2 linked regions of the Homo sapiens genome follow. The protein of the gene in region 2 purifies or fractionates together with the protein of the main gene of each other region. This does not show direct contact. Each region holds a gene or a part of one and is shown on either strand. Other genes may lie near its edges.

What was found. The genes of interacting proteins can lie anywhere in the genome.
Region 1: the proteins of GTSE1 (region 2) and CALU purify together in Homo sapiens (affinity purification with mass spectrometry; one large-scale study listed by BioGRID and IntAct). This does not show direct contact.

The regions. Positions count from the first base shown.
Region 1 is NC_000007.14:128,759,805-128,763,460, forward strand, and holds part of CALU (calumenin isoform a precursor), read left to right. Parts: coding exon 1-48; intron 49-3,656. UniProt on the Homo sapiens protein: Involved in regulation of vitamin K-dependent carboxylation of multiple N-terminal glutamate residues. Seems to inhibit gamma-carboxylase GGCX. Binds 7 calcium ions with a low affinity.
Region 2 is NC_000022.11:46,317,245-46,320,900, reverse strand, and holds part of GTSE1 (G2 and S phase-expressed protein 1), read right to left. Parts: exon of another isoform or gene 3,038-3,656; intron 1-3,037. UniProt on the Homo sapiens protein: May be involved in p53-induced cell cycle arrest in G2/M phase by interfering with microtubule rearrangements that are required to enter mitosis. Overexpression delays G2/M phase progression.

The sequences.
Region 1 (3,656 bases), on a different chromosome or scaffold from region 2:
ATATAGATAAGAATGCTGATGGTTTCATTGATCTAGAAGAGTATATTGGTAAGTCTCTGCTTTTAGTGTTTTTCTTAGAAAAGCTGAGAAGCTTTGAAAGGTGTATTTGCTGGCTGGGCACAGTGGCTCATGCCTGTAATCCCAACACTGGGAGGCCGAGGCGGGCAGATCACCTGAGGTCAGGAGTCCAAGTCCAGCCTGGCCAACATGGGGAAACCCCGTCTCTACTAAAAATACAAAAAAATTAGTTGGGTGTGGTGGCGGGCGCCTGTAATCCCAGCTACTCAGGAGGCTGAGGCAGAAGAATCGCTTGAACCCAGGAGGCGGAGGTTGCAGTGAGCCGAGAACACGCCATTGCACTCCAGCCTGGGCAACAAGAGTGAAACTGTCTCAAAAAAAGAAAGAAAGAAAGATGTATTTGCCCATAGAAACAATTTACTCCAAGGGTCAATTCTCACTAGCTCATTAGCTGTCACCAGATCATTAACCAGACCAGTGTGATAGTGGGTTGTGATAAAGTATCCGTAGCCACATTGCCCAATCAAAATATAAATGTGAGCCCCATATGTAATTTTAACTTTTCTAATAGCCACATTAAAAAGTAAAAAGAAACAGATGAAATTTCAGTAGTTATTTAACCTAATATTCTAAAACTCTATAATTTCCACTTAATGTAAATTATTGAGGGTTTTTTTTTAATACTTAAAGCACATCCCAGCCACATTTCAAGTGCTTAATAAGCACCTGTGGCTACCATCCTCAACAGCACAGATATAGTGTATCCTGCATGCTCTATGGAACTGATGGTAAAGAGTTGCAGGGGGCTGGGCACGGTGGCTCACGCCTGTAATCCCAGCACTTTGGGAGGCCGAGGCGGGCGGATCACAAGGTCAGGAGATCGAGACCATCCTGGCTAACACAGTGAAACCCTGTCTCTACTAAAAATACAAAAAATTAGCCGGGTGTAGTGGCAGGCGCCTGTAGTCCCAGCTACTGGGGACGCTGAGGCAGGAGAATGGCATGAACCCAGGAGGCAGAGCTTGCAGTAAGCTGAGATCATGCCACTGCACTCCAGCCGGGGCTACAGAGCGAGACTCCGTCTCAAACAAACAAACAAAAAAAAGAGTTGCAGGGAGCCCAGACTGACATAGGGAAACCCAGGGAAAGGAGATAGGGAATAGATTAAAAGATGGATAAATAAATGACGGGGAGTTGCTGATCCCTCTTGTAGCCATTCCTTTTTACTGTGTTCTGTTCATATTTTCTCTCTGATTCTCTGACTACTTTCCTTTTGTTTTTTAAGTTTCTCCCTTTTGACATTTCCCTTTTTAGTTGTCTAAATTTTTTTAAAAAAATTGTTTTGGATGTCACACCTTCAAGGCTAATTTCTCCCAAGTAAAGCTCTGTTTTATTATCATCAGACTAATTTTAAGATATTCTCATTGCTTTAAAAAAAAAAAGCTGTCTTTCTTACCAAGTAGTTGAGCAAATTGTTTCCCAATTACTGTGACAGAAATTAAAATGAGTAAAGGAGCTGGGTGTGGTGGCATACCCGGTTACTTGGGAGGCTGAGGCAGGAGGATCACTTGAGTCCAAGAGTCTGGACTATAGTCACAAGTTCATCATCAATATGGTGACCTCCTGGGAGCAGAGGATCACCAGGTTGCCTAAGGAGGAGTGAACCGGCCCGGGACAGAATCAGAGCAGGTCAAAACTGTGCTGATTAGTAGTGAGGTTGTGCCTGTGGATAGCAATTGTACTCCAACCTGAGCAACATAGCGAGACTCCATCTCTTTAGAAAAGTGAGTAAAGATGGAAAGTATAAGACTGTTACTACAAATGTCATTGTTACAAATACTTTGTTTAGAAAGATATTAGATATTTTAATATTTCACATACTTATTGTCATTTGTAATAACTTATTCTAGCACACCATTGGTTTTGTGTTTCAGATAAGCCCGTTTGTTTTTAGACCTCTGATAGTTACCTGAAATGTTTATTTGAAGCCTGAAAGGAAGACTTAATCCTTACCTCTATCACCTGTCATTAAACTGTATGGAGCAAGTCACTGCTTTACTTAGATGTTGTCTTATCATACCTGTTGTTTACATGCTAGAGTTATTCCAATTGAATTACTCCTTGACTGTTTACCTCCCTTTTCTTAGGTTCAGTGGCATACTTTGAACTTTTTAAAGAAGGATGAGCAATGGAAGATAGGATGGATGTTTTCCTAAACTGATTTTTTTTTTTTTTGGAGAAGTTTATCAGGACAGTGGATAAGTGCCTAGGTGCATTTACTGAGCCCACGTTGATGTTACTAGGGTTTTCTACTTTTAAATGATTTATCTTTTTATTCTTGGCTTTTGCCATTTTATTGCCATTGCTAAAACTGAGGAACTCATTTGAACCTCCCAAGGAGAGGAATTTTTATAACTGTTAACTACATCACTTATCAAGCATTGAGGCCAAATAAGGAGATATTTCTGTCTCCCTGTGTATCATATAGATTCAAGGGCAGAGGAGTTATATTTTGAAGCTACCAAAACTATCTTGTGCATGTGTGCTTTTTTTTTTTTTTTTTACAAGTCAGTAACTAATGCAAACACTTTTACATCTGGGATGCTGGGCTTTGTAAATCTAAAATTCTCCCAAACAGTATCTTTCAGCTTCTAGTGCCCTGTTGAAGGAGATCATGAAGAAACAAAGTTCTTCGCCTCATAAATTTAGCATTAAAAAGAAGCCCCATCAGTGCCTGTGGAAACATAGGGAAAGAAAAAAAAAAACACCCAAAGTTGTGCTGATAATTATTTTTATTTTTAAAATTTATTATAGAGCATTGCAGACGTACACAACTTATTTGTTTATTTATTTATGTTTTTTTTGAGACAGTCTTGCTCTGTCACCCAGGCTGGAGTGCAGTGGCGTGATCTCCACTCACTACAATCTCTGCCTCCCAGGTTCAGGCGATTCTTGTGCCTCAGCCTCCTGAGTAGTTGGGATTACAGGCATGCACCACCACACCTGGCTAATTTTTGTATTTTTAATAGAGGCGGGGTTTCACCATGTTGGCCAGGGTGATCTTGAACTCCTGGCCTCAAGTGATCTGACCACCTTAGCCTCCCAAAGTGCTGGGATTACAAGTGTGAGCCACTGCACCTGCCCCCAAATTAGAATAGTATAATGAATCCCCATGTACCTATGCCTAACCTCAACAACAATCAACTTACAGCCAGTTTTTTCTCAGCCACATCCACTTCCTTGCTTCCTTCTTACTTTGAAGTAAATCCCAATCATTATGTCATTTCATCTGTAAACATTGAGGTATATATGTCTAAAATATATATGTGTTTCTAAAAACATTTTTTTAAAGATAATGTCAACCCAAGAAAATTAATAATACCTTCAAATCATCAAATAGACTGAGTCTTTTAAAAATAGAAATTCGGCCGAGCATGGTGGCTCATGCCTGTAATCCCAACACTTTGGGAGGCTGAGGTGGGCGGATCACAAGGTCAGGAGTTAGACACCAGCCTGACCAACCTGGTGAAACCCCGTCTCTACTAAAAATATAAAAATTAGCCAGGTGTGGTGGCATGTGCCTGTGTAATCCCAGCTACTCAGGAGGCTGAGGCAGGAGAATCGCTTGAACCCAGGAG
Region 2 (3,656 bases):
AAACAGAACACGAACAAGCCATCTCCTGACACCCTCACGACTGCCCTAGGGCTGCCTGAGCACGCACGCCTCCCAGGCCCACATCAGCTCTTCCCTAAACCTGGACGGCGCGTCTCCACTGCAGCTCCCAGTACCGGGGAGGCAAAGCCCACAGCCAGAATTCCAAGTCTCAATCCTCTGGGTGACCCGGCAGCATGGACTCATAGTAAATAGCAACATTTGTAACTGGACTGTTTTACAAAGAATGCTGCTTGCCTCGAGTATTTTGAGAAAGTGCACATATGAAAGCCTCCACTACAGGGCACCGTTCATGTGGTCCCACGCTGTGAGTGCCCTCAGCCCTCACCTCTCCTCCACGGTGACAGCTGGTGTCACAGCCAATGAGCAACACCACCAGTGCTCTCAGCCAAAAAGTGCACACCACCACGTGCCTCCCAGAGCTGTGTGTTCCCAACAGCGTGGCTGCTCCCCTGGGGCCTCTCTTCCGGCCAGTGCTGAGTTTGTGGGACCAGTTTTGACCCTGATGAATGACCAAAGGCGTGCAAGAGACAGTCCTGTTCCCAGCATTGTGGAGAGAGGAGGAACCGCCTGCCGAAGGTGAAATGCACATCTGAGAGGTGCGTAAGGAGACCGCAGGGACACGCTCTGGGAAACAGGGCAAAGCCAACAGGGATTTGGGATTAGCAGAAGTCCTGTGGCATCAAGCAGCCCGACAGCCAGGAGACCAGCCAACACTTGTGCCAACGTGGTCAGGAGAGACATGGCAGACGCATGTCCTGGCTCCAGGCATTCAGGCAGAAGGGAAGCAAACACTACTGAACACACCTCCACATGACCTGGGCCGTAGGGTGTCCCTGCAGAACCCACCCAATCACAGCTCGCATTTCTTTTCTTTCTTTCTTTCTTTTTTTTTTTTTTGAGACAGTCTCGTTCTGTCGCCCAGGCTGGAGTGCAGTGACACCATCTCGGCTCACTACAACCTCTGCCTCCTGGCTCAAGTGATTCTCCTGCCTCAGCTTCCCAAGTAGCTGGGATTACAGGCATGCGCCACCATGCCTGGCTAATTTTTCTATTTTTAGTAGAGACAGGGTTTCACCATGTTGACCAGGCTGCTCTCGAACTCCTGACCTCAGGTGATCTGCTCACCTCGGCCTCCCAAAGTGCTAGGATTACAGGAGTTAGCCACCGTGCCCAGCTCACAGCTCCCATCTCTACAAACTCAGCTCTCTGCTGTTGAAACCTACACTGAGGTCTCCAGCTGTGGCTTCTCCTCTGAGCTCTCAGCCTGCTCCACCCCTCAGCTGCAGCCTAAGTGGCCTCTCACCCTCACTACTTCCAAAATGGGGCCGTGGACTCTGCCCGCTGCCTCTTCCAGCCCTCCTGTCACATGAGTGGCAGCACCCAGGTTCCGCCAGAACCTCAGGGACACTCGAGTCCCTCTCTGCACTGCCACATGAGCCCTAAGCTACCAGAACGTCAGGCAGACCGCAGCGCTCCAGCCTCCTTCCCCAGCACTAGCTTCCTCCCCAACACAGTGAGGGCCAGGTCCGCATTACCCTCCCCACCACTCTTCGGCCCAGAGACTCTGCTCTTCCCTCTGTGGAGGGACCTTCTGAAGGTCAAGTCGCTCTGCTCTGATCTCTCCTATGCACGTCCTCCTGCACTGACGGTACTCCAGGGTCCGCTCTGGTCACGCGGCGCTCTGGGAGCCGGCCTCGGGCTGCCCCTCCATCTTCATCTCTTCTTACCCTGCCCCTCGGTCACTGACTGGCTGAGGTTGCTAGTTTTTGTTCAACAGCAACTTTCCTCTTCTCAGTAAGAAATTTCAGCTGTGTGCGGAATAAAGACAACGTGTCCTAGCATCCTGTGCAGGGAAGCGTCGTACTCAATGGGACACAAACGGAGTCACAGGGACAACTTGCAGTGAGGGTCCTTGAAAGGTGGGGATTTGCTCTTCTTCACCTAGAAGAAGGCTTCCTGCCGGGAGGTATGAGGGCCAGAGCCGGTGCAGCCACACTAGACCATGAGGATGAGAAGCTCATCACGGCAGCACAGGATGGAGTAAGCCTGGGTCCCTGACACCAAGGAGTACTGACCAGCTGTCGCACGTCTACGCAGAATCCCGACCGCAGCGGCTGCACTCCCACCCTCCGGCCCCCATGCTGCTCCCAGAGCACGTCCCACGCCTTCCTGCCCCAGGACCTCTGCACTCCTGCCGTTGCCTCTGCCTGGAGTGCTCCCCCTTGCACTTTCCTACCGGCTGCCTCAGTCTCCTGGTTCAGATCTCAGTCCCGTGTCACCTCCTGACCATCTTTGCCAAAGAACCACCCGATGCAAATTCCTCCCCAAACATGCCAGCTCCAGGACACCATCTTCCCTTAGTCCCTTTGTTGTGCTAGGATCTGCAGGCCTGCTCATCTGATAACATTTCGTATCTTTTCCTATTAAACAGAAATTCTGTGAGAGTAGGTCTGTCTTATCATGATGTCCCTTGTCCCCCAAAGCATTCCAGCACAGAGAAGACACTCAGCAGAACAGCTTGTTCCTACAGCAGGACTCAGAATGCAGTTTCTGGGAGTTGCAGGCTGCCTGTGCTGGCCGGCACTGCCAGAACTTAAAATCCTCAAGCACCCAGAGGGCAGATCTGCCTGACAGAGGAGGCCAGGACGCTCCTCTCACCTTAAGTCAGCTCTGAGAACTTTCTGCATTGCACACAATTGTTCAAGAAATTCATGAAAACTTTACAAACACCCACCCACTAATGGCCAGACACCTGCTGGGGCCAGTGGCCTCACTGACTGGAGAAGGCAGTGGCTGGAGCTCAGGAGGCTGAGGTGGCTGCAATCTGAGGGCCAGAAACTAGAGAGGAGGGGGCTACTCCGACAGAACGAGCTCTAGGAACCCAAGGGAATCTCGAGTCTCTGGCTGAGCACCAGGCAGTGCACAGGTGCAGGGCAGGAGTCCTCAAGGTCAAGAGAAGAGCAACTACCAGGGAGCAACGAGCGGAGCTCACAGGGCCGAGAAACCGCCGTCTTACCAGGGAGCAACGAGCGGAGCTCACAGGGCCGAGAAGGTGTCATCTTGCAGCAGCAGGAGTGCAGGGGTCTCGCGGGCCTTGCGGGACACACGGGTGTGCAGCAGAGGCCTTGGGAAGGACGCCGGTGGCGGGAGGCGGAAAGGCTATGCTAGACCCACCACTTCAAAGCATAAAAAGCCTCGGAAGGATGATCTGCACCTTAACTGCCTGCCAAGCCCAACCCAACTCCTCAGAGAAAGACAACAAAATCCAGACATTCAAAAGTGTACACCTGACAATATCCAACAACCAAGAAAAACTTGTGAAAAATGTAGAGGCAGGAAAATGAGGCCAAAACCCGGAAACAAAATTAGTCAGTCGAAACAGACCCCAAAATGATGGGGAAGATGGTATGAGAAGAATCGTAGACCCTAAAACCATTATCAATTTGCTCACGAGGATGTAAAAGAAAACCCAAGTACCATGAGAAGAAATAAGGGGAAACTATTATGTTAGAAACAAAGTTAACTGGATGGGCTTCACAGCTGTTAGGCACTGCAGAAGAAATGATATCTGACAACAGAAACTACCCAAACTGTAGCTCAAGGAAAAAGGCTGGGCCGGGCACGGTGGCTCACAC